Linked DNA regions of Homo sapiens: all the other regions are linked to region 4. Evidence: fine-mapped expression QTL. A gene starts in region 4. Each other region holds a variant in brackets. All regions are shown on one strand. Distances are from middle to middle.

The links. PIP is the estimated chance that this variant, and not a neighbour inherited with it, causes the effect.
Region 1: its variant is fine-mapped to the expression of SEMA4F in fibroblasts (GTEx, PIP 0.99).
Region 2: its variant is fine-mapped to the expression of SEMA4F in lung (TOPMed, PIP 0.97).
Region 3: its variant is fine-mapped to the expression of SEMA4F in whole blood (GTEx, PIP 0.92).
Region 5: its variant is fine-mapped to the expression of SEMA4F in whole blood (TOPMed, PIP 0.98).

The regions. Positions count from the first base shown.
Region 1 is chr2:74,098,556-74,103,555 of GRCh38, reverse strand. TET3 (tet methylcytosine dioxygenase 3) reads right to left here. Exons shown (of 12, transcript NM_001287491.2): 11 at 3,944-4,280; 12 at 1-3,163. The coding sequence ends at 1,380. Among named protein-coding and RNA genes, the nearest start is that of BOLA3, 47 kb to the left of the region's middle. RefSeq lists an enhancer at 3,607-4,106. The variant C/G (reference allele first, on the strand shown) is at 2,244.
Region 2 is chr2:74,570,760-74,575,888 of GRCh38, reverse strand. It overlaps M1AP (meiosis 1 associated protein), which reads left to right. Exons shown (of 11, transcript NM_001321739.2): 7 at 310-451. Among named protein-coding and RNA genes, the nearest start is that of DOK1, 19 kb to the right of the region's middle. RefSeq lists enhancers at 3,436-3,645, 4,643-4,742. The variant A/G (reference allele first, on the strand shown) is at 1,996.
Region 3 is chr2:74,691,770-74,696,898 of GRCh38, reverse strand. It overlaps a transcript of SEMA4F not described here. Among named protein-coding and RNA genes, the nearest start is that of SEMA4F, 40 kb to the right of the region's middle. The variant C/T (reference allele first, on the strand shown) is at 3,055.
Region 4 is chr2:74,651,400-74,656,528 of GRCh38, reverse strand. It overlaps SEMA4F (ssemaphorin 4F), which reads right to left and starts at 2,282. Exons shown (of 14, transcript NM_004263.5): 1 at 2,008-2,282. The coding sequence starts at 2,152. RefSeq lists a silencer at 2,006-2,435.
Region 5 is chr2:74,704,762-74,709,890 of GRCh38, reverse strand. It overlaps a transcript of SEMA4F not described here. Among named protein-coding and RNA genes, the nearest start is that of SEMA4F, 53 kb to the right of the region's middle. The variant C/A (reference allele first, on the strand shown) is at 2,324.

The DNA.
Region 1 (5,000 bases), 550 kb after region 4:
ATGATCAAATGGAGAAATGGCACCAATTAGGGAGGAAAATTATAGCAACCTGTTGAAAATGTTTGACTCTTGCACTTTAAAATTGTTAAGTGTAGGCCCCCGAACCCAATGACAGCATGGAGGAAGCAGGCTCAGGTGTGAGGCATGCACCATTGTCCAATGTGGAAATTCAGGGATCAGGATAGATGCATTAACTGTTGTTACACTGGTCTGCTGAGCTCCTGTAGGATGTGACCTGCCCAAGAGTCAAGAAAGTCCCAGCACAACACTACAGCACCAGGCTCCGCACAGCACCATGCACAGAGCACCACTGGCTTTTCACAGCTTGGGTTCAACTTCCTGTTTTTAAAGATACAGTAGCCCTTTTTCAGTATCAGCATAGACTTTGGGGGCATTTTTTAAAAAACTGCCACTAAGACAAATTCCTTCAGCTCAGCATGCATTGGCTTGGCAACATGGTGGGCACGGCCCCTAAGAACCTCGCACTCCAGCTCCAGCGTGAGGTGCTGCCTAGTGAACCATGACATCGTGTGACTCCATAAATAACGGACAGAGGATTCAGTGTGGAGACTAGCAAGCTTGAAGCCATCTACTTCCAACCTGGTTTCTGGGGAAAGCTATGCCAGCATCTCGTGGGGCTGGCCTGGGGTGCATCTGCCCTTCGACTCCAAGCCGGGGACTGGAAAAGGGACCCCAGATGGTTTTCTGCAGACTCTCCCATCCTATCAGAGAGGACAGAAGCTGTCCTGAGGCTCCCTTCCCCAAAGGGAAGGGGTGTATGTCGGGAGGGATGAACTGGGTGGCTACCGTCCGCGCTTGGCTCTCGAGGGGCAGATGGCTGAGGACCTCGCCAGCGCCCGAGGGGCTTGGCTCGCCAGACCCAGCGAGACTGGGCGGGGGAGCACTACTGGCCTTTCCTGCCCATCCTTTACCATTACTATTGTCGCTTTTAAAAAATCCAATAAATACACATTTTAAATGGAATTTAAAACTACTCCTTTGTGAAAGGATACTATAAACTTTCTTTCCATTATTGTGATATACAAGGATAGAGTTTTAAAAACAAAGAGAAAATAAAAATAAAAACCCCCCAGACAAGGGGGGGGGACAACTTGGAGATATAAATATTAAGATCACGGAAAAATCACCCGACAGCCGTAGTTTCTTCTTCAAAGTGCTGGGGAAGTGGGGGTAAGGGAGGGGCGGGTCAGTTCTGAGGTTTGGACCATAAATACATATATATGATATGCGCATCTATATATGTATATAGAGATAAAAAGACTTCTGCACCCCCAACCCGCCCCCAGGTATGAGGGCAAAAGCACCACAGAGACAGCTCGGGCCAGGCCCGACGCTGAGGTACGCTGGCTCCCTGGCACCTAGATCCAGCGGCTGTAGGGGCCAGTGACCTTCGTGTAGGCATAGGAGGACACGGTGACCGCCGAGTCTGTGGGCACAGCCAGTGCCTGCCGGGTGGGGACGACCCCCTTCTTCTCTTTCTGCTGGGGCTCAGCAACCACAGTGCCCCCCCACTTGCGCTTCTTCCCGTAGAGCTTGGCCTCCTGCTGGCCCAGGCCCAGCCGGGCAGCCTCCTCCTGCCGTGCCCGTGCCCTCTCCGCCAGCTGCTTCATCTTGGCTTCCCAGAGGGCCAGCCCGTGGTTGGGCTGGTTGAGGTTCTTGTGCTGGTAGAAGACCAGCGAGATGCGGGTGGGGTGGCAGCGGTTGGGCTTCTTAAGCGGCGTGGTGGCGTGCAGCTCCCGCCGGGCACACTCGATGAGGATGGAGCCGTGGGCTGGGGCCACGGCCACGCCGCCGATGTTCTCGTCCAGGAAGTTGTGTTCACTGTCCGACCACAGCTCCTCCTCTTCCTCCTCCGCACCACCACCGCCCTTCTCCTCCTTCACCGCTCCCTTGCTGGGGGGCTCCTCAGCCGGCCCCTCCTCCAGGCTGAAGGGGTCCCACAGCTTCTCCTCTGACTTCAGAGCCCCAAACAGCTTCTCGCTGGATCCCAGGGGCAGACCAAAGGACTGCCAGGCCCTGTCCAGCTGGCTGGCCCCTGCGGCTGGAATCCTGCCCTCCTCTCCTTTCATGGGGTTCCACAGCTTGTCTTGGAACCCAGGACTACCTTTCAGGGCCGAGTTGAAATCCCCTGCCCCCAGCGCCCACGGCTTCTCAGTCAGGCTGGGCCCAGCCAAGGCCGAGGTGCTGTTCCCAAACTTGCAGGGGCTCCACGGTTTGCCTCG[C/G]AGCCGTCCTCCAGAGTGGGAAGCTGCCTGCTGCCCCTCACCGGGGAACAGCCCCCACTGGCCATCTGTGAAGTGGGAAGGGGCCAGGCAGCTGGCCCCAAAGGAACTGAGCTTGTCAGGGACGATGGCAGGACTCTCCCCAGACGAGAACACACCCCAGCTGCCACCCACACCGTTAGTCCTCTTGGGGGACATGCTTGGGCCTCCTGAGTACTGTCCCCAAAGGTGACTGGGTCCTCCATTCTGAGACACCTCGGACAGAGGTGTCTTGCCCATCTTGCCAGCGTCTCTGGGCACAGGCTCAGCCTGGGTCAGCGGGTCTACTGGCTCTTGCTTGATGGATCTGTTGTAGCAGTTGGAGCTCTGGGCAAAGGGGGAGGGGTCCCTGGACACTGAGTGGAGTAGGGGGGCCTTGGGAAGCAGATACTCCTTGGGGCCTGGGTACGCAGGCTGCTGGTGGTGAGGAGTGGGGTGGTGGGCGTCTGTGGGAACAGCCTGGCTGGGCAGCTCGGCAAACTCAGCACCACCGTAGGCCGGGCTCAGGCTGTTGTGCAGAGCGTGGAGGTCTGGCTTCTTCTCAAAACTGCCACTGCTGCCACTGTGCCCCCAGGCACCAGGACCCAGGAACTGAGAGGGGAAGACGGGGTTGCTGGATGGAAAGCCATAGTAGCTAAAAGACGGGAGAGCGTACTTGGAGTGGAAGCCATTGACGGAGGTCAGGCTGGGCTGTGCATAGTAGGAGTGGTAGGAGTACACGCTGTTCATGCTGTAAGGGTCGGAGGGCCGGCAGTTGCCCAGCACCGAGTAGCTCTCCACCACCGCGTTGCCGCTGTACTTGAAGGAGCTGAAGTGGTTCTGCGGCTCCACCTTGAGGGAGGGCTTCAGGCCTTGCTGGGACAATCCACCCTTCAGAGACAGGCCTGGGGAAACAGAAGGCAAGATGGCAGAGGGGCAGACAACACCACAGCCTGGAGAGGCCCTGGGTCGGGGACTGGGGATGGACCCTCCCTCTTTCCCAGGGATGTTTCCTCTTTTGGGACAGGCAGGTGAGGTGCTGAGGCATGTCCAGCCCAGAACGGGTCGTACTCCCTGGGCCCTGCTCAGCACAGGCCCCAGCCCCAGCCCCACTGGGGGTGGGAGGAGGCGATCCCTGCTGAGAAGCACCTCATGCGGGGTCCACAGTACCCCCACCGACTCCTCTCTTCACCCTAGAGAACTCCAGAAGTTGTACTGAACCACCACCACCCACTCTGTGCCCAGCCCAGTCGGGATCACTGCAGGGACCAGGGCCAGGAGAATGAGAACTCAGATGCCTGCCAGCAACCGTCTCCGCCCATAAGCCCTGCTGCCCTGGCACACACCCACATGTCCTGAAGTGCTGCTACTCACCTCAGTATCTCAGAGGGGAGCAAACTAGAGCTCAGAGGGGAGCCTCTGATTCTCTGAGGGATGCAAACTAGAGGAGAAACCCAGTGCTTCCCCTCTACCAAGCTCACTTCCACGCAGATAACAAGTCCTGCTGTACTTGCATCCCCACGGCCTCCTATCAGGCTGGCTGTGGCTGCTGCAGATACCCTTCTGACTGACAATTAAGCAGAGGCCCCAGTTCCAGTGTGATGCAGGAGGGTGCGTGGAAGAGCAGGGGCCCCCATGAGGACAGTGCCATTGTGACTCCAAGCGGGCACCCTCCCCCCACACACCTGGGTCCGACGTAATGCCCGCCAGCTCCAGGGCCTCCTGCTTGATCTTCTCCGGAGTGCTCAGCTTCTCCTTCTGAATCTTCTTCTTCTCGGCTGCTGCCTTTCTGGCTTCCAGCTGCCGCTGGCGGCAGGACTTGGCAGGCTCGGGCAGGCGTCGGACCTCGCGGGGGAAGGCGGTGAGCACCTGGATGGCTCCGCTGCCCACCTTTGCATTCTGGTTCTCCTCGCTACCAAACTCATCCGTGTTGGCCATCTTGTACAGGGGGAGAACATGCAGCTGCTCATCCTCGGGAATCTTGCCCACGCAGCGATTGTCTTCCTTGGTCAGGGTGCAGACCTGCCCCAAGCAGTGGGGGAGAGAGGACATGGGGTTGGGGGACCGAGTGCTGGGAGAGAGGGGTCTGAGCACCCAAAACACATGACCTCATCTTTCCCCACACAATCCCAATACCAGCCACTACTACTTCCAAGAGTTTGTGGAAAGCACATTGATCTTGGTTCACGGGGCAACAGTATCACCAGCATTTACAGTCCACTCATCAACTTTCAAGGCACATTATCTCCTATGATCCTAAGAAGGCTGAGAGGAGATGAGATACCTGGCAAGGGGCCTGGCCAGGACCTGGAGGCTTGCTCTGCCCTCTGGCATAGCACTGACGCCACAGCACCACGTTGCCCAGTGAAGCTCAGACCGTCCACCATTATCTTCCTTGTTCTAAACACTCAGCCTCCTTTTGCTCTTAAAATACGTTTCCTTTTGGGAGGCCAAGGCGGGTGGATCACCTGAGGTCAGGAGGTCGAGACTAGCCTGATCAATATGATGAAACCCTGTCTCTACCAAAAATATAAAAATTAGCCTGGCGTGGTGGCATGCGCCTGTAATCCCAGCTACTTGGGAGGCTGAGACAGGAGAATTGCTTGAACCCAGAGATGGAGGTTGCAGTGAGCCAAGATCATGCCACTACACTCCAGCCTGGGCAACAAGAGTGAAACTCCGTCTCAAAAAAAAAAAAAAAGAGTTTCCTTTTTATTATAAACTCTATGTGCTGATTATAGA
Region 2 (5,129 bases), 81 kb after region 4:
AGCAAGCCCTTATCTTGAAAGAAAAACAAAACAAAACAAAAAAACACAATGAATTAGCAATAATGGCAGAGTCTGCTTCAACTCTTCCCAGTTCCTACCACTGTGCCCATGCACAGGTTCCTGAACTTTGACAATCTTCTGTGTGCTAGATACTATGCTAGATGCTGGCCATACAAAGATGCATAGTTCACAGACACTAATTTAAAAGCTTTCACAGTACTGTCTTAGAGTTAAGCTGAATTGAAGTGGATCTAGGTGGAGGTTCTAGATATCACTAAGGAGTCTTTGACTGTAATTATCTCTTCCTAGGGCTTTAAAATCTAGCGGGCTCTGCGAGTCATTGACATATGGACTCCCGTTCATCCTCAGACCTACAAGCTGTTGGCAGCTGGACTGGGATGAGCTGGAGACAAATCAGCAACATTTCCATGCTTTGTGTCACAGCCTGCTGGTGAGTACCCATGTCCCCAGGTGAAAAAGAAGAATCGTTTTTAAAGTACCAACCACAGAAAAGCAGCTAACTAACTCTGCCCAATCCTAAATCTGCCTCAACCCTCAAGAAGACAGAAAAAACTGGAAATACTCTGAAATTTGGAGTAAATATGACTTGCCTTTTGTTGGTTTCATGCTATAGAGAATAATTCCTGAATTCAGTTATACAACACTAAACTTGAAAATCCCCGATTGGCAAGCTTAACATTTAAATGGCAACAGGGAATTTTCCGTACGTACCTGTATTTTAAAACCTACTTCCTTCCTAACACTGATAGACGTTATGGTTCATTTAAATGAAGAGCATTTAGTCTATGCCAGACATTGTGTCAAGCCCTAGATATATATTCTGTAGTGACCTAAAAGACATTACCTATGACCTTAAGAAACCCACTCTCCAATGGAAGAAACAGAAATGTATATATTCTTAATTATGAGAAGTTTATAAAGGAAAAGAAAAAGCTGCTATAAGAAAGCCTGTCTATAGAAGTGACATTTAAACTAAGACCTACAAGATAAGTGAGAATTAACCAGGTGAAGGGTGGCAGGCAGAGCATTCCAGGTGTAAGGAAAGGCATGTGCAAAGACCCTAAGGCTGGAAAGAGCTGAGAGAAAAATCAAGAACAGAAAAGCCATTGTGACTGAAACAGGGAGGAAGGGAGAGAGTGACAAAAGGTAGGGTTGGAGAGGTGAGCAGGGGTCAAATCATGCAAAGCTTTGTAGGCCAAATTAAGGATTTGGACTTAGGGAAACAAATCATGAGAAATAACATTATCTATTTCAGTTTTTAAAATATTACTTGGGCAGAAATTTGGAAATGAACTCGCAGAAGCAAAAATGGAAACATGAAAATGAGCTAGGAGGGTATTGCAGTAGACTAGTCAAGAGACCGTGGTGGTTTGAACTAGAACATTGGAAGTCAAGATGAGATGAGCAAACCAATTAGAGAAATATTTTAGAATCGCTTCTTGGCCTTTTAGCTATGACCAAGTGTAGAAATATTTTAGAGAGAAGATTGTCAGAACTTGGTTGAGAGATTGGATATAGGGAGTGAGAAAGAGGAAGTATCAAATAACTGCATGGTTTCTGACTTGAACAACTAGATGGATGTCATTCCCTGAAATGGAAAAAATAAAAGCAGTCACATGAAACTAACACAACACTTAGCAAAATTAAAACAACTGCAAATAGAATGCAAGGACAGATATAGAATAAAGGTTTGACTTAGTAGGATGATCAGGACAGCACAGCAATGCATCTCTTTCACTATCAGAAGCAGACTTCTTTTTTTCCTGTTTCGAAGCCCGCACTCCCTTTTAGGTCCACCCACTGAGTTCCTGTTTCCTGTCTGAAGAACACCCATCTCCTGTCTTTGCAGAGCAGAGACAACGGAGCCGTTGTAACTGTTAGTGCCCAACAGCTCAGTTTACTATTTACTCCACCCAGTTCCTCAGAATCTGAGATGATACATCACATGGGAGGAATTTCTCCCAGGTGGCTTCA[A/G]TACATTCTTACAGTATTTGATATTTTAAACATACATTGACATTTTAATACACTGCTAGAGAGGATGTAAATTTTCCGGAAAATGATACCCTTTCCTTTTGCTGGGAATGTAGCCAAAGAAGACAGTCAGGAAAGGGATGAAGATATATGTACCAGCATGTTCATCTCGGTGTTATTTACAGTGGTGAAAAATTAGAAACAACTCAAATGTCCTAAGTAGGGGAAAAGTTATAGGAACTATAACCTGGTGTGGTGACTCACGTCTGTAATCCCAGCACTTTGGGAGCCCAAGGCAGGTGGATCACTTGAGGCCAGGAGTTCAAGACCAGCCTGGCCAACATGGTGAAATCCCACAGCTACTAAAAATACAAAAATTAGCCAGGCATAGTGGCACGCACCTCTAATCCCAGCTACTCAGGAGGCCGAGACATGAGAATCACTTGAACCCGGGAGGCAGAGGTTGCAGTGAGCCAAGATCGCACCACTGCACTCCAGCCTGGGCGACAGAGCAAGACCCTGTCTCAAAAAATAGTTATAATAGGCTGGGCACGGTGGCTCATACCTGTAATTCCAGCACTTTGGGAGGCCGAAGTGAGTGGATCACAAGGTCAGGTGTTCGAGACCAGCCTGGCCAACATGATGAAGCCCTGTCTCTACTAAAAATAAAATAAAATAAAAAATTAGCTGGGCGTGGTGGCAGATGCCTGTAATCCCAGCTACTTGGGAGGCTGAGGCAGGAGAATCGCTTGAACCTGGGAGGCGGAGGTTGCAGTGAGCCGAAATCGTGCCACTGCACTCCAGCCTGGGCAACAGTGTGAGACTCTGTCTCAAAAAAAAAATAGTAATAATAAGGATGGGAAAAAGTATTCCCTTCCATCCTGGCTTACATACACGAGATTAGAGTCTCCCTGCCACTAAACTCAGGGTTTGAGGATCTGTATTTATCTATCTGTCTATTTATTTATCAAATATTTACTCACCACTGTATGCCAAGCACTGTTGTAGAGATGAAGAGACCTTTTCTTTGTTAGTCTTCTGTCTTGGAAAAGGGCAGGGATGTAGTTGACCTGTCACTAGTAGATACCCATATTTTGGAGCATTTACTAAGTGGTAGTCACTTAACCAAGTGTTTTGCATACTTTACCTCATTTAATCCTCACAATAATCTGAAGTAGAGATTGTTATCCCAACTTTTGCAGATGGAGGAGGCTGAGGCCTAAAAAGACCAAGTAAGTTACCTAAGGTCACACAGCTACCAAAGTAGTCTTGTCAGAGTTTGAGGACCTAGCTCACACATGTAATCCCAACACTTTAGGAGGCCAAGGCAGAAGGATCACTTGTGCCCAGGAATTCAAGACTAGCCTGAGAAACAGAGTGAGACCCTGTCTCTATTAAAAATTAAGAAATTAGCCAGGAGCAATGACTCACACCTGTAGTCCCAGCTACTCGGGAGTCTGAGGTGGAAGGCTTGCCTGAGCCCAGGAGTTCAAGGCTGCAGTGACCCATGATCGCACCACTGCACTCTGGGCGACAGAGGGAGACACTGCTTAGGGGGGGTGGGAAAGAAAGAAAATTTAAAAAGAATTTGAACCTAGTTCTGTTGACTACAAAGCCCATGTTTTTAACTTCTTTGCTAAATTCCCTACTCTGGATGTAGCCAGATAAATACAGACTATAACACTGAAGCTAATTCTCCTTCACTTACACCCTATGCTTCTGTACTTCAGCGGAGTTGAACTCACTTAAAATGGCACAGTACTCATAACAACGGCTTACTCATCTTGTACTGCTGTTCTCTTTACTCCGTTTGGTCCACCTCATCTAGATTAAAGACCACTCTCCTATTCTGGAAAAGACAGCAGCAAAACAGTTTTCTTTCTTTTTTTTTTTTTTTTTGAGACGGAGTTTCGCTCTTGTTGCCCAGGCCTGGAGTGCAATGGCACAATCTTGGCTCATCACAACCTCCACCTCCTGGGTTCAAACAATTTTCCTGCCTCAGCCTCCCGAGTAGCTGGGATTACAGGCATGCACCACCACATCTGGCTAATTTTTTATTTTTAGTAGAGACGGGGTTTCTCCATGTTGGTCAGGCTGGTCGCAAACTCCCAACCTCAGTTGATCTGCCCACCTCAGCCTCCCAAAGTGTTGGGATTACAGGTGTGAGCCACCGTGCCTGGCCGCAAAACAGTGTTTAAATGCCTCTTCCTTCTTGTTTTTCACATGACATTTTCTCCAAGCAGCAAAAATCCTGAATGGCAGTATGTTATAGAGTACAAACTTTTCACAAACTTCAGCTCATTAATTCAACACAAATATTTTTAAGTGTGACGAGACTTATTTAGGGTTTTAACCTCCTAAGCCTATTTTTACAAGTTTGCCATGCTTCTTTAACTCCATCTTTGGTTTTTTATTCTTTCATATACCTTTTTCATATGTTCTTTTAAAATCTGATTTCAAGTCAGCTCCATATTTAACTCTCTTGCCTTCTGTTTTTCACTGTAATGTTCCCCTCCAGCCAACTTCTCATTCTAACTTCTGCCTTTCTGTTAATAGCAGCACCGCCATTGTCTAGTCACCCAGGCTTGAAACCTCAGTCACTTTCAGCCATCTCACCCTTTACACCTACTCCATCACTAAGTCATATCAATTTTCCACTCATAACATGAGTTGTAACTCTCCTTTACTTCCTGTTCCCACTGCTTGTCTCACCAAGACTTCTTCAGTAAACTCCTAACTGGCTTCCCTGCCTCCAATCTCTCTCTCTTCTGGTTTTCCCTGCACATTGGCACTAGCTTAATCTCCTTGAAGCATTCCCCTATCACATGTTTTTCTATGTATCAATACTCAATCACGTATTACACCTTGCCTATTCTATCCCTATAGCATCTGTTATCACTATCCTAATTCAAGCCCTTTTAACCTTTCCTTTAATACTGCAATAATCTCTCAACTTGTCTCAATGCTTTTTTAGTGCTTCCCATTCCTAGTCCATTTCACATAATGCCAACAGATTAATCTTTTGATTAATCTGATTCAGCACTGATTCTGCCACTACTCAGCTGAAAAATACTTTGTGGCTTACTATTGTTTATCCATAAAGTCCATATTCCTTAGCCTAATATTCAAGGTCCCAC
Region 3 (5,129 bases), 40 kb before region 4:
AGAGATTAGTTAAATATACTATGATTCAGCCTTACAACACAATAATTTAAAACAGAACAAGGACACTTTCTATGCACTTATGTGGAAGGATCTCCTTGATATATTGTTTATGTAAAAAATAATGGAAATAAGAATGCATTTTAATATTTTAATTTTTTCTTTCTTTTCTAAAAATATTTTTTATTTCCATAGGTTTTTGGGGAACAGGTGGTATTTGGTTACATGAGTAAGTTCTTTAGTGGTGATTTGTGAGATTTTGGTGCACCCATCACCTGAGCAGTGTACACTGAACCCAACTGGTAGTTTTTTTATCCCTCACCCCCTTCCCACATTTTTATATTTGATTGTATTTTCACAAAGAAACACTAGAAGGGTACAGAAGAAATTAATAAGAGAGGCAGGGCCGGGCGCGGTGGCTCATGCCTGTAATCCCAGCACTTTGGGAGGCCGAGGTGGGTGGATCACCTGAGGTCAGGAGTTTGAGACCAGCCTGGCCAACATGATGAAACCCCGTCTCTACTAAAAGTGCAAAAAAATTAGCTGGGCATGGTGGCAGGCACCTGTAGTCCCAGCTACTTGGGAGACTGAGGCATGAGGATCGCTTGAACCTGGGCGGTGGAGGTTGCAGTAAGCCAAGATCATACCACTGCACTCCAGCCTGGGCGAAAGAGTGAGACTCCGTCTCAATTAAAAAAAAAAAAAAAAAAAAAAAAGAGGCAGGAGAGATGTTTTTCAGTATACAAACTTTTATATATATATTTTTAATCATGAATATTTTAACTTTGCAAAAAAGAAATTAATAAAGATTTTTTCAAAATCACTTCAGAATGCCTTCTAAATGGGCAAAGAGTGCTGAACTAGGTGGCAGAGGTTCAGATTTGATTTTAGGTGGGGCCCTGGCTTCCCTGAATTTGCTCAGCTGTGAGACTAGGGTGGCCCTGTATGCTCTCAGTCCCTTACAGCCTTGCTCTTCTATAAATAAGGTATTTTCCTGGATCGCACCCTGTGTTGTATTACCACTCCCTTCTGTGCCCTTTCGTTGTACAGACAGTATCAAGTTTAATGAGTATGTTTGACACCAACTTCGGGAGAATTCCCAGCATCTCACAATTCATATCTGGTTACTTCCTGCTCTTGGATTATATTTGTCAATCGTCCATGCCATGTACTTCTCTCTTAGGCTTTATTCAGAGGCTTTTAAATTTGCACTTTAACTTGGATTAGTCCTTTTAGAAAGCAATTTGGTCATATAAAAGGTAACTCATTTACTCTTTTGAAAGAGTTTAATACAGCGTCCTGTTTCTTGGGGAATTACCCTCTATATGACAAAGTCCAGTTGTTTTATTCATTGATTTGGATTTACTTCTGTTGAGGGTTGTAGGGATGAGGGAGTAGGGATAACAGAAATCCATGGGTAGAGGATATGGAAAACAAGGTGAGCCAACTGCTCTGCTACATTTGGAGAGAAAAAGGCAAGGCTGAGGACGACAAAAGTCCAGACAGGGGAGTGCTCTGTGCAGAAAAGAAGCACTGTTGTGCTCTGAGGTTGTGCAAAGGAGATCATTGTGTGAGAAGCATGGAGACAGAGCCTGAAGGTTCAAGGAGGATAGAGGAGCTCTACGAGTATAAGACACCAGCTCTGCAATTGAGTCTGCTCCCAGCTACACGGGAGGCAACTCGACTCACATCTGGCTGAGTGTCTGATGCTGTTGTGGACAGTGTTGCTATAACCTGCTGAGACACGCAGAGATCCCAGCACAACAATTTTCCTCTTTTTATTCCTTAAAAACCATTTTAGTTCAAAAACAAAATTTCAAATAATAAAAAAAATTCTCCTCCCAGCTATCACAGTCCTCAGTATCTACTAAAAGGAGTTGAAAACATATCCACAAAAACACCTGCACATGTATGTTTATAACAGCTTCATTCATAATTGCCAAAACCTGGAAGCAACCAAGATGTCCTTTAGGAGGCGAGTGGATAAATAAACTGCAGCACATCCAGACAATAGAATATTATTCAGCACTAAAAAGAAACAGGCTACATTAACCAGTCAATGTACATATTGCTTGGCAAGACTAAGCTTCAGCTTGTCCAGCATAAGTCTTGACTTACACTTCTGTATTCCCTACAGCAACTAGCCTCATGCTTTCCACCTGAAAGATGTTCCACAAGTGTTTGTTAATTTTACCTGATTGGCATCAAAATGAAGATAGCAACACAGAGCTGTTATTTAAAAGAATAAGCCAGAAGCTGAATGGTATTGTTTTTAACTATTAGGACATGTCACCACGCATCAGTCTTTCCCAACTCATTGTTAGCTGGGAATGACTGGGAATAGGAACGCTGGGGGAAAAATCCTGGATGGGTGTGGCTAATAAAGAGGATATGGCTGTGGAGCAGATAGACTTGGCTTCAAACTCTGCATTTACTACTTCCTAGCTGGGGACCTTGAGCAAACTGAGCTCTGGGTTCCTCATTTTGTAAAAAGAGTTCAAAAGGGCTCTTGGTGTGGTTGAAATGAGAGTTCGAAATAATATACTCAGAGCACCTGCCAAGGTGTCTGGCCCCAAGCTGCTCAATGTCTAACAATGATTTCATCACCTTCCTTGCTTCCATCATGTGCTGGAAAATCTAAGTGCATTAAAAAAAATGAGAGACTGAAGGATGTGAATCGCTATGAGAAAGCATGAATATCAAGAAGAAAGCATAAAAGGTATGAAAGAAGCACGCACACACACATGCACACACACGTGCAGCAATTCCAGGCTCAACTGTCTTGTCTGCAGATGTTTTATCAAACATAGGAATATATTATAGCCAAGTTGTCTAAACTCTGTTTACCTGAGTCTATCAGAGTTTATCTGTTAGTAATCTATCTCTAAAAGGCTGAAAGCTTCCTGGTTCATTCTAACACAGCAGTCCCGTTTCTGAGAATTTACTTTAAAGTATATCCACACACCTACAAAATAATGGATTTATGGGGTTGCTTACTGCAGCAGAAGACTGGAAACACCTCAAATATCTATCACTACTGGGAACTGGTTGAATAAA[C/T]AAACTATGACACAACCACACAAAGGAACACTGTAGCAATAAAAAAAAAATGAGGAAACACCCTATGAACTGATAGAGGACAATTTCCTTGATTTACAGTTAAAAAGAGCAGGTATAGCACAGGTTATAAAGCATGCTACCTTTTCTGAAATATTTTCAAGGCAACAACTTCACCTTCCCGATCTGCAAAACCACTAACACAGGGATGATCTTAGGAACCAACGTGGCTTCAGCACTAGGACATTCACAGGCTAAAGGAGAAAAACTATACCATCATCTTACTGGCTGCTTATGAAGATATTTGACATAATTCAACATCCATCCTATCCTCTTAAAAGAAAAATATAAAACCCTGTTAGTGTTAGAGGTAATGCAAAGACTCCCTCTGTATTACAAACCTATTAGAAACCAAGAGGAAGTGTGAAAAACAATGGTGAAATACTAAAGGCACTGCTATAAAATCAGGTTCAAGTCAAGAATGAGTTCTGTCTGGGCCAGTTCTGGAAGTTCCAGCCAACATGCTGAAATAAGAAAGAGAAGAAAGAAACAAATGTATTATTTTCAAATGATGTGATGTTAATCAATGGAAGGTTAGTTAAAATAAGAAATATCAAGCAACAGAATCCTATGCAGGATGATGATATAGAATAACATTTTATTGTGGAAAAGTACCCAAGATATAGTATCAAATGGAAGAAGCAGTTTACAAAATAGTATCATACTATGTTTATTGAAAATATCTATTTATATCCCTATGTTGAATATATACATAGAGAAAAGTCTGAAAGGAAATCCACCAAAATATATTTACAGATTGTATCTCTGGCCTATGGGTTTTGAAGTGATTCTTATTTTTATTTACTTTTCAGCATGTCCTAAATGCTTTATTACGAGCATATGTATGTAATTGTTTAGATAAATTTCTTTCACCCACAAATAAACACACTCGTGTGTGCACATGCAAAACTCATTTCAAGGTCAGTGAGATGAGCTGCATTTCTCTTAAAGTGGCTAGTGTTTGTGACCTAAGGCCACTTTCCAACTCACTCCCACCTTTGTGAAAAACCAAGCTGGTCTGCTCTGCCTGGTCCCTGCCCCTCTGAACAGAAGCCTCAGATCTGTGGGCTCCAAAAAAGCTTACTCTGGGTTTGATTTCCCAGGTGACCATGGCCCCTGTCCTCAGTACTCATACCCAGTCCTAGCCCTATCCTAGCTGTTTGCAAAGAACTCCCAGCCCTCTGAAGCCTGCCCACCTTGCCTGAGTGAAGAGGGCTCCTCCTTGCCACACATCCAACAGAAGCCTTTGCCTCCCCAGTGGGTGAATTTGGAGATCCCTGTGGCAGTCTGAAGCCTCCAAATGCCAGGCTTCTCAGCCCCACAATGGGGCTGAAGGTCATAGGCAGAGCATACCAGGTCCTGTCACCTCATCCCCGGTCTCTTGGGACCTTAAATGTCCCCCATATGTGTTTCCTCCCTTGGGTCCCTGCCTTGTATTTCAGACAGCTAGTTGGGTGGATTCTGCTACCTCGTTTCTGTTGGCCACATTTCATGAACTCTGTGTCTGCCTTTCCCCACCTCATCTTAGGCACATTGCCTGGCACAAGCTGCTGGTATGTGTGGTGCATCTGATCCTTACTTATTCTCCACCCTGCACCCTGAAGTTGTGAGAAGGCCACTCCTAGGTCTCAATTCCTCTGGGGAGAGGACTGGATTTGTTATCTTCCTGCGTCAACTTGAGTCATAATCCAGCAGTCTGCCCCTAGAGCCTGGTACTTCTTTTGCCTGGTACTTGCCCCACACCCCACCAGCTTCCCTCCTGGCCCAGTGCCCACCACACCATCGGAGGGTGGTCAGGCCTGCTCCGTAAGGCTGGACACTGTTACCCCCGACAGGAGCATTCCAATGGCTGCAGCAATGGAGTGACCGAGCCATATATACGTCCAGCATGACTCAGTAGACTGAGATCAAAGCTGGCCTTGATCATCTTGGGACTCTGAAAAATATTGGCATAATCATCCCTCATCTATCCAGAACCAGCTTCCTATCAGTCAGTGTCTCCTTTCCATAATTTAGTT
Region 4 (5,129 bases):
AGGAAGAGAGGAGAGTGATGTTAGCCATCGCTTCCTAAGGGTCAAGTCCACAAGAGCAAAACCAAAGGGGCCAATTTTTGTTTTCTTCCAAGTACCATTTATTAAGCAGCCATGGGGGAGAAACACAGCCTTGACAAGTGAACCAGAGATAGATGAGGCCAGAATATTTAGCACACAATCCAGTGGGTAAGTATGCTTTTTCTATAAAAATAGAGCACTAGCTGGACACGGTTGCTCACGCCTGTAATCCCAGCACTTTGGGAGGCTGAGGTGGGTGGATCACTTGAGGTCAGGAGTTTGAGACCAGCCTGGCCAACATGGTGAAATCCCGTCTCTACTAAAAATACAAAAAATTAGCCAGGCAAGGTGGCGCGCACCTGTAATCCCAGCTATTTGGGAGGCTGAGGCAGGAGAATTGCTTGAACCTGGGAGGCAGAGGTTGCAGTGAGCCAAGATCACACCACTGCACACCAGCCTGGGTGACAGAGCAAGACTCCGCTTCAAAAAAAAAAAAAATCTAAACCTCATATTAGCATTCAAAATTCGTATCTATTTAAAGACTGGAATAAGTTGGCATGAATTTACCTTCCTAGCTCAACCTCTGGTTCTGGGGACCCTACCCTTGCACCAATACAGCTCTGCTCTACCTGCTTCCTCTGCTCAGTACCCTCAAGACTGCAGACTGGACACCAACCCATTCATTCCTAGATGTACTGATGAGTCCCGCCCACTCCTTCCTCCCACACCCATACTTACCTCTGTGCCCACTCTCTCATGCTTAGTATAAGCCCTGGATCACCTAACTTCCCCTCACATCCTCAACTCTGCTTCACCTTGCTTGCCATCTAGACATCTCTGGATGCCTGGACATCAACCCAGCCTGGCAATCTCAACTTACTTTGTGGCTATTGCTTGGGTGCAAACTGAAACCCCAGGCTCTGGCCACAACTTCGCCTTCTGGAATCACAGCATCCCTATATGGCACTAGTCTGAATTTAAACTCTAAACTACTATTAACCAGTCCAGAGTTGTTGCCAACAGGTTGTACTCTTGGCTTCACTGGTTCTGTCTGCCCAAGGTGCTAATAACACTCAATGCCCACTGAGAAGACAACAAGGTCCACGGCCATGCTCATACCCACCTCAGCAGAGTCTAAAATGTGAATCGCCCCAATGATCACTTTTAACCTTGTGACGTCTCCTAGCTTCTTCCACATCTTTTCAAAGGATCATATCCCCCTCCTCTATTTTTCCTTCTGAAGACTTGAAAAATCATTTAAGCAGAACTTTACATCAACACATTGAATGGTTTACCAATATTCAATGTAGGGAATGGGCAGAGGCAGCGAGGAACACTGAGGAAGTTAAGAGAGTTAACGTGGATCCAATAATGGGAGAATGGGAGCTGCTGTCAGAGATGTCAGGGGAGCGGGAAGGGCTGTCAGAAGGGCCAAGAGGCTCGGATGATGTATAGAACTGATAGGGAAATGAATTGGAGAAGATGGAAATGCTGACCTGGAGATCGGAATGGAAAGCTGGAGTAGAATGAAAGACTGATGGGTCTGAAAGCAGAGTGGGCGTCAAGCTGGAATGATGGACCCAGGTGTATGTGCGGGGAAACAGGGGACTAAGGGAGACGGAACTTCGAAATGAACGACCTCGGGCAGCCCCCACCCGAGCTCTGGGCCTCAGTGTCCGAGTCTGCACGGTGAGGACTGGACGCTCCTGCGGCTCCGGGAATAGGGCCCGCTGGTGCAGCCTGGGCGTGTCGTGGGAGCCGAGGCGCGAGGCCCGGGCTGGGGATGAGGGGCTGAGGGGCGCGGGAGGGATGCAGAGAGGATGCGGTGAAGTGCGAAGATCTCGCCCCGGTCCCGGCGGGGCGTGGGCGGCGTGAAACGCCATACACCAGGCTGAGAGGCCCGGGTCCGGCCGAGCGGTCTGAGGAGCAGGTGGGTGTGGGTGTGGGTGTGGGCGCGAAGGGCTGAGGGCGTGGGCGTCCGCGCCTTACCAGAGATTGGAAGCGAGGTTCTGGGCACCGAGCGGGGGACGCGGCCGGATACCGGGCCGCTCAGCACCGCCAGCAGCAGTAGCGGGAAGGGCGAGGCTGTAGGCTGCCCGGGACCCGGGCGGGGCCGCGCAGCAGAGGCCGGCATCTTTGGCTCCGCCTGGCCGCGGGTGCGGCGCAAGCTACGGCCTCTGCTCAGGGCCCCGGGGCTACTGGCCTCGGCCCCACTCGGGTCCTCTCGGCTCGGTCCGGCTCAGCCTGAGGCTGAGGGATGAAACACCGCCCGGCTCCGCCCCCTCAGAAAGGGGCCAATGGTCGGGCCTCCTTCTTCCTCCAGCCAATCGGGATTGAGTGAAGGCGGGGCTGAGGGGAGGAGAGGCCTAACCCAGGCAGAGGCGGAGCTAGACCCAGGTGAAGGTGGGAGTTCTGCCTCGGAAGTGCGCTGGGGCTGCCACTCAGGGACCTCGAGTGGCGAGTTTGCTCCGGCCACTCCAAAAACTCAAACGCCCATAGCTGTACTAATAAGGAAAACTTACTAATAAGAGGACGTGGATACACGCACCAAGTTTCTCAAAATTAATACTTTGCAAGCATTTAAGGACGGCTGCCTATGTGCTGGGCAGGCACAGTGTAACGCGCGCGCGCACACACACACGCACACACACACACACACACACACACACGATTATACAGAAAATACTAAAAATCACGGCCCTTGCCCTAGGGAGTTCACACTGTAATGGGGCTTCCAAATGTAAGCAAATAACTGCAAATAGATAATTGCAATACGAAGCAATGCACGTTTGCTATAATAACGTGCAATAAGTGTGCAGAAGGGCCAGGTTTTGCCAGAGGAAATCAGGAAGGCCTCACAGAAGAGGTGACATTTGAACTGATTCTTCTAGGGTTGGTAGGCCTTTGAGGGCGAGGAACAAAGACTGCCTATGGGCATATCCACTTGGATATCCTATAAACAAGGCAAGCATAGGTCCTGAGGATAACTCACTATCTCCTCCATCCCAACCCTAGCTCCTTCTTTTTTTTTTTTTTTTTTTTTTTTTGAGACGGAGTTTCGCTCTGTCGCCCAGGCTGGAGCGCAGTGGCGCGATCTCGACTCACTGCAAGCTCCGCCTCCCGGGTTCACGCCATTCTCCTGCCTCAGCCTCCCAAGTAGCTGGGACTACAGGCGCGCGCCACCATGCCCGGCTAATTTTTGTATTTTTAGTAGAGACGGGGTTTCACCGTGTCAGCCAGGATGGTCTCGATCTCCTGACCTCGTGATCCGCCCGTCTCGGCCTCCCAAAGTGCTGGGATTACAGGCGTGAGCCACCGCGCCCGGCCCCTAGCTCCTTCTTCAAGCACTTAGTCTGCACTTAGTAGGTAGTCTTTGCTTTCTCCTCTTTCACCCCCATTGTATTAGTTATTTAGGCTGCAAAACAAATGTAACAAATTAACCTCAGAATTTGGTGGCTTAAAACAAACAAACAAAAGACATGGTCCCTGAATTCGAATTGCTTAGCCTGGAGGGAAAATCAGACATTTGGAATAAACTTTTATTATCTCTCACAATCTCTCTGCGTCAGAAATTTAGGAGTAGTTTAGCTAGGTGGTCTGGCTTCCAGTCTCTCACAAGATTACAGTCCAGATATCAAACGGGGCAGCAGTCCACTGAAGGCTTGCCTGGGGCTGGAGGATCCACTTCCAAGATGGCGGACTTCCATGCCTGCCAAATTGGTAGTGGCTGTTGGCAGTAAGTGAAGGTTGTTCTCCACATGAATTTCTCCATGGGGCTGCTTGAATGTCTTCACAAAATGGGGTGACTTCCTCAGAGCAAGTGATCCAAAAGAACAAGGCAAAAGAGCAAATGATATATTTGTGACCTAGCCTCAGAAGTAACACACAATCTCTCGGCCATATTCTACTTGTCACACAGGGCAGCCCTGATGCACTGTGGAAGGGGACTTCACCAGGTGGTACAGGGATTTCACTGGGAATACAAGGATTTCAGCCTCCTTTCTTGGAGACTAGCTACCATGCCCATATGTAAGAAATCACTATGTCCTTATAAATCTGACTAAAAAGTAACTTAAATCCATCCTTTTCTTTCCATTATCATCATAGTTCAGGACATCATCATCATTCACCTGGACTGTGTGATAATTTCATTTAAAAAACAAAAACCTAGCCTCCAGTCCCTCCCCTTCCAGACTGCCATCAGGATAATCTTTCTAAAGTGCAAGTACTAGTTCTAGTTTGTTCTTTCAACAGTTATTAAGGGCCTAATATGTGCCAGGCATTTTACTAAGTACTAGAGATAAGATTAAGACATGGTCCGTTGGCTGGGCATGGTGGCTCATGCCTGTAATCCTAGCACTTTGGGAGGCTGAGGCAGGAGGATCACTTGAAGACGAGTTCGAGACCAGCCACGTCAACATAGCAAGACCCTGTCTCTGCAAAATAATAATAATAGCAAGGCCTGGTGGCACACACCTGTAGTCTCAGCTACTTGGGAGACTGAAGCAGGAGGATCACTTGAGCCCAGGAGTTCAAGGCTGCAGGGAGCTACGATCACACCATTGCACTCTAGCCTGCCAAAAAAAAAAAGCCATTGTCCTTGAATTCAAATTGCTTAGCCTAGAGGGAAAATCAGGCATTTGGGATCAGTACTTCTAATCTTCTCTCTGAAATCTTCTTTCTAAAACCAACCTCAACACAATGGAACCCCTGCCCCCCGTCTGAGTTTCTTCCTCTAGCCCACTATATGCCTTTCCTAAGCTGCTTCTCAGCAGTCTAGTCTAGGCCTTAGTCCCTTCTCTGAACATGACTTATTGGTTGTCTTTTGATTTTTTTAATATTTTTTCAATTTTTTTCACAAAACATACAATAAGAGGTTCTTATTGTGCAACCTAATTGCACTTAAGTACATGCATTCATGTACCCAATGTACATATTAGTGAGTTAAATTTTTAACAAAGTCATACTTACATTATATTTATCTTTACTTCAGGAGCTAAATTCTCATTTTTTTCCCTATCATGTTGCATTTTATTCTATTCCATTTTTTTAAATGCTGGTTGCAGCCCACTAAATTGATTTTACTATTCATTAATGAGTTGAGATCCCCA
Region 5 (5,129 bases), 53 kb before region 4:
CCCAGATAAAACAGGGTTCCTGATAAAAGGGTGATTTTGATCTTCTTACTTCTCTCTCTCTTTTTCTCCTTCTCGCTCTTTTCCACCCCGTCACACATATACACACATGCCCTCTTACCTTTCCACCTTCTGCCATGGGATGACACAGCAAGAAGGCCCTCACCAGATGTGAACCCCTCAACCTTGGACTTTCCTGCCTCCAGAACTGAAAGAAATAAATCTCTTTATAAATATTTTTTAAATAGCCAAATGCTGAACAAAACCGTTCAAAAACAGTAGATTACATACTGTATTATAATGGAGTGCTTTAACATGTGCAATATAGGCATATAATATATACTGGTTTTACAAACTATTTCCATTATTTTGTATTCAGCTTGCTTGTAAAATAACTTTTTCTATCTTGAACATCAGAGAGTAGCAAAAAACTGACTGAAACTGCCTAGAAAATTACATTAGGCTAAATTATAATGTTTTAATATAGCTAGGCAATCTCCCTTTTATTCCTGAATGACATTTTCACTGAATTAGGATTCTGGGCTGACAGTTCTTTTCATTCAGGACTTGAAAAATGTGTGATGCCTCCCTCTGGCCTCCACAGTTTCTGATGAAAAATTTCTGTCATTCAAATTATTTTCCCTCTCTGTGCAAGGTGTCATTTCTCTCATTCTGTCTTGTCTTAGTTTTACAGAAGTTTGATTATGATGTGCTTTGTCATGGATTTCTTTTCAGTTTATTCTGTTTGAGGTTCATTAGCTTCTTGAATTATGCAATCACAGCTCACCGCAACCTCTGCCATCTGGACTCAAGCCAACCTCCCACCTCATCCTCCTGAGTTAGCTGGGACTATAGGCACGCACCACCACACCAGCTCTTTTTGTGTTTTTTGTAGAGACAGGAATTTGTCATGTTTCCCAGGCTGGTCTCAAACTCCTGGGCTCAAGCGATCCTCTTACCTCAGCACCCCAAAGTGCTGGTATTAATGGGGTGAACCACCGCACCCAGCCTATTTGGCTCCTCTTTATGTCTTGTGTTTTCCTGCTGAGACATTCTATTTTTAAATTTGTTTTAAGCATGTTTATAACTACTCATTGAAGCATTTTTATAATGGTTTCTTTAAAATTTTTGTCAACATCTGTGTCATCTCAACATTGGCATTTGTTGTCTTTTCTCATTCAAGTTGAGATTTTCCTGGTTCTTGACATGATGAGTGATTTTCTATTAATTCCTGGGCTTTGGGGGAATTATATAAGACATTATATCTTATTTAAATTTTCTGTTTTAGCAGGCCCTGTCTGACACTGTGCCAGTCAGGAAAGGGGACTGCTGCTTCATAATTGCCAGGTGGTTGTGTAAGTCCACAGTCCTCACTTGGCCTCTGTGGACACTCCACTGGGGTAGAGTGTCTCATTACAGCTGGTGAGGGTGAGAGTTCCAGGTCCCCACATGGCCTTCACTGACATAATCACTGAGGAGAAGGTCATTACAGGGCACATCACCCCAGCAAGGAAGGGTTGGGGTGCCTCATCACAGCTGAGTGAGGGGAAAAGCCTAGGCTCCTTTTTAATATGGGTCATATTTTTCTACTTCTTCTCATACCTGGTAATTTTTGCTTAGATACTAGACATTGTAAATGTACTTTGCTGGGTGTTAAATATTTTTGGATTCCTATATATATTTTTGAACTTTGCTCTGGGATAAGTTAAACTACTTGGAAACAGTTGGATCCTCAGGTTTTGATTTTATGATTTTTTTTTTCAAGGGTGCTGAGAAGTGCTCAGTCTAGGGTTATTTATTGCCCACTTCTGAGGCAAGGACCTTCTGTACAAACTACTGAGTGCCCCAGGAATCATGGGACTTTCCAATCTGGCAGGTGGGAACTGGCACTGTTCTCAGCCCTGAGTGAGCACTGAGCAGCGCTGCTTCTAATCCTCGCAGATGGTTTCCTCACACACATGTGCTGATTGGTACTTAGTTGAACCGATCTTGAGGAGACCCCTGAGGATCTCCTGGGCTCTCTCTGTGCACCTCTCTCCTCTCCATCATCTATCCTGCAAACTCTAGTTGCTTTGGTCTCCCCATACTCTTATCTCTGTTTCCTCAACTCAGAGCATTTTCCAGGCTCCATCTGGGTTCCACCTTCCTGAACTGTGCCCTAGGAACTTCTTCAGGGCTGTAAGCTGGAGCAATTGTAAAACTCTCCTCAACTCCCAGGAATCACTGTCATTTGTCACCTGATGTCCATGTCTTGAAAACCATTCCTTCATATATCTTTATTGTGTTTGTTGTTGTTGTTGTTATTGTTTCAGGCAAGAGGGCAAAT[C/A]TGAACCTATTACTCCACTTTGGCCAGAAGCAGAAGTCTTCAAGAGAAATTGTTAACCTTTTTAAAAAAAAAAAAAACTTTCATAAAAGCTGCAAGAATACAATGAACATTTACATACCTTTAACCTAGATTTACCAGTCGTTAATATTTTGCCTCATTTGTTTTATTTCTCTCTAGATAGTTGGATAGATGGATAGATAGATAAATAGATAATCTGCACACATGCACACATTATTATTGGTTTTGCCTAGCCATTTAAGAATAGGTTGCTGACATCATGCTCCTTAACCCCAAATACTTCAGCATCTGTCTTTTAAGAACAAGGATCTTTTTATATAACTACAGTATAATTAACAAATTTGGAAAATTTAGCATTGATAACAAACTATTATACAATATATAGCCTACATTCAAATTTTGCCAATGTACTTTATAGTAATTTTTTCCAACCCAGAATCCAATCTAGGATCATGAAATGCATTTGTCAGATACATATTTTTAAAATATATTTTAAAATATAACCCATATGACTTCCTAGTTAGTTAAATGCAGGTAGCAGAAGGGTGAGATCCAGCCTTGTTCTGCTTCCAGGTAGCAGAGGAGAGGGAGTGGCCTACCAGGGATCCTGCTTGGTCACTGCCTCTGAAGCCTACTACCTAATCCCTGCAGTTAGGGTGTCTCCTCTCCTCATTTGGCTCTTTGATGAGTGTGAAGTGAAAATGCTCACTCACTGAGAAGTGCTCAATGGAGTATAAAAACTAATAGAAATGAGATGAAGAGATTTCAAACAAATAGGCAAACTCAGAAGTGAAAATCAATGACACAAAAGTGGTAATGCTATAAAATAAATAAATGCAAAGAGATTAACCGTGAAATATGAATCAACAAACCTCGTGCAGACAACCTTGTCCAGTACTGCCTGTGTCAGAAACTTCCCCACGTCTACTCCAGACAACCCATCTGTCCCTACTCTTCCTCCTTGCCACTGCACCCACATTCTTTGGCCTTCGGGAAAAGCTCTAGCCTCAATTGCTGATTCCTGAAATCTGACATCAAGTTCACATCAGATCTCACTCCCTGATTATGCAGCCAGATCTCCCCTCTATGCATCTCCATGACCCTATGTTTGTCTCACTCATGAGCCACTGATCTGGGTCTGCCTGGACCTGAAGTCTTTGGGTTTGTGGGTTCTGAGCCCCTCTAATACTGCAAGCTCCTGTGGTGTCATGGAAAAATTTTAAACCTGTATGAATATCGATAAGTTCTTTGGCGTCAGATCTGGTTTCAAATCCCACTGAATGTACAATCTTAGGCTAGTTTCTAATCTTCTATGAGCCTCAGTTCCCTTATCTGTAAACTGGAAACATAATATCCCATGCAATTATGGTAAAAATTAAATGAATTAAATTATACAAAGGATTCAGCTCATTGCCTAAAATGTTAAAAAAAATTCAATAAATGTTGTTTCTCCTTCTCTTATTCATTTTTTGAATTCCCAAAGCCTAAAATGTGTTACTAGTAATTTAATGCAAATTAAAATGGCTTGTAATTACATGACTAATTCACATTAACCATAAAGGAATCAGAAAATATACAAAAAAAAAGAAAAGAAAATAGAGAATAACTTGTAACCTCCAAACACCAAGATACTAGTGTATAAATTGATACATATCTTTTGAAACTTTAAAAATGTGCAAATATGGCCAGGCCCAGTGGCTCACACCTATAATCCCAGTGCTTTTGAGAGGCTGAGGCAGGAGGATTGCCTGAGACCAGCAGTTCAAGACCAGCCTGGACAATAATAGCAAGATCCCATCTCTACAAAAAAAATTAAAAATTAGCTAGGCATGGTGGCACACATCTGTAGTCCTAGCTACTCAGGAGGCTGAGGCAGGAGGATCACCAGATCCCATGAGTCAGAGGCGTCAGTGAGCTATGATTGTGCCACTGCACTCTAGCCTGAGTGATAGAGCAAGACCCTGTTTCTATAAAAAGTTTTTAAATACTCATTGTAAAATACTGTACATAGTGCTTTATAATCTGCTTTTTATATGATAATATATGACAAACATCTTTCATTGACCATAAATAGATTTCTCAATATTATCCATTATGGCTACAGAGTAAACCTATACAGGGATGTCTCTACTTACTCAACCAATTCCTTATTTTTGAATACTTAGATCTTTTGCAATTTTTTCACTATTTCCAGGCAATTACTGTGATGACAAGCTTGTAAATCTTTGTTCTTATTCTCAATTAAATTCCTAAGAGTGGAATTGCTAGGATAAAGAAAATGTGAAAATGTTAACACTTTTGAAATACATTGCCTAATTGCTCTCCAGAAAGATGTTACCAAATTATATTCCTCACCTACTCAGGGTATACGGTCATTCTTTGCTTGCCTTTGCCATGGGGAAATGGTATTTAATTGTTATTTTAATTTCCTTTTTTAAAAAATGTAATTTGTATTTAGAAAATGTTGGACTGAATAAATGCACTTCTCTGTCCATCCTGACCCTCACACCAAACCCATCTGCACATTTGCAAGCTTTCCCTTCTAGGATGAGTGGTCATGAAGAGAATATGATCCTAATTTGCATGAAACTGATGGACCCTTGGATTGAGGGGCAGGAGGAGGACCAAACGCATAGGAGAACAAAGACATCTGCAGTGTTGGGAGGAGCTGAAGAAGAGCAGGGCAAATCATAGGATTCCAGGGCTAGCAGAAATGAAGGTCAGGATTATGGGGCCGGGTTTGGAGAAGGAGAGAAGATAGGAAGGGACAAATCCAGTGACCATTCGG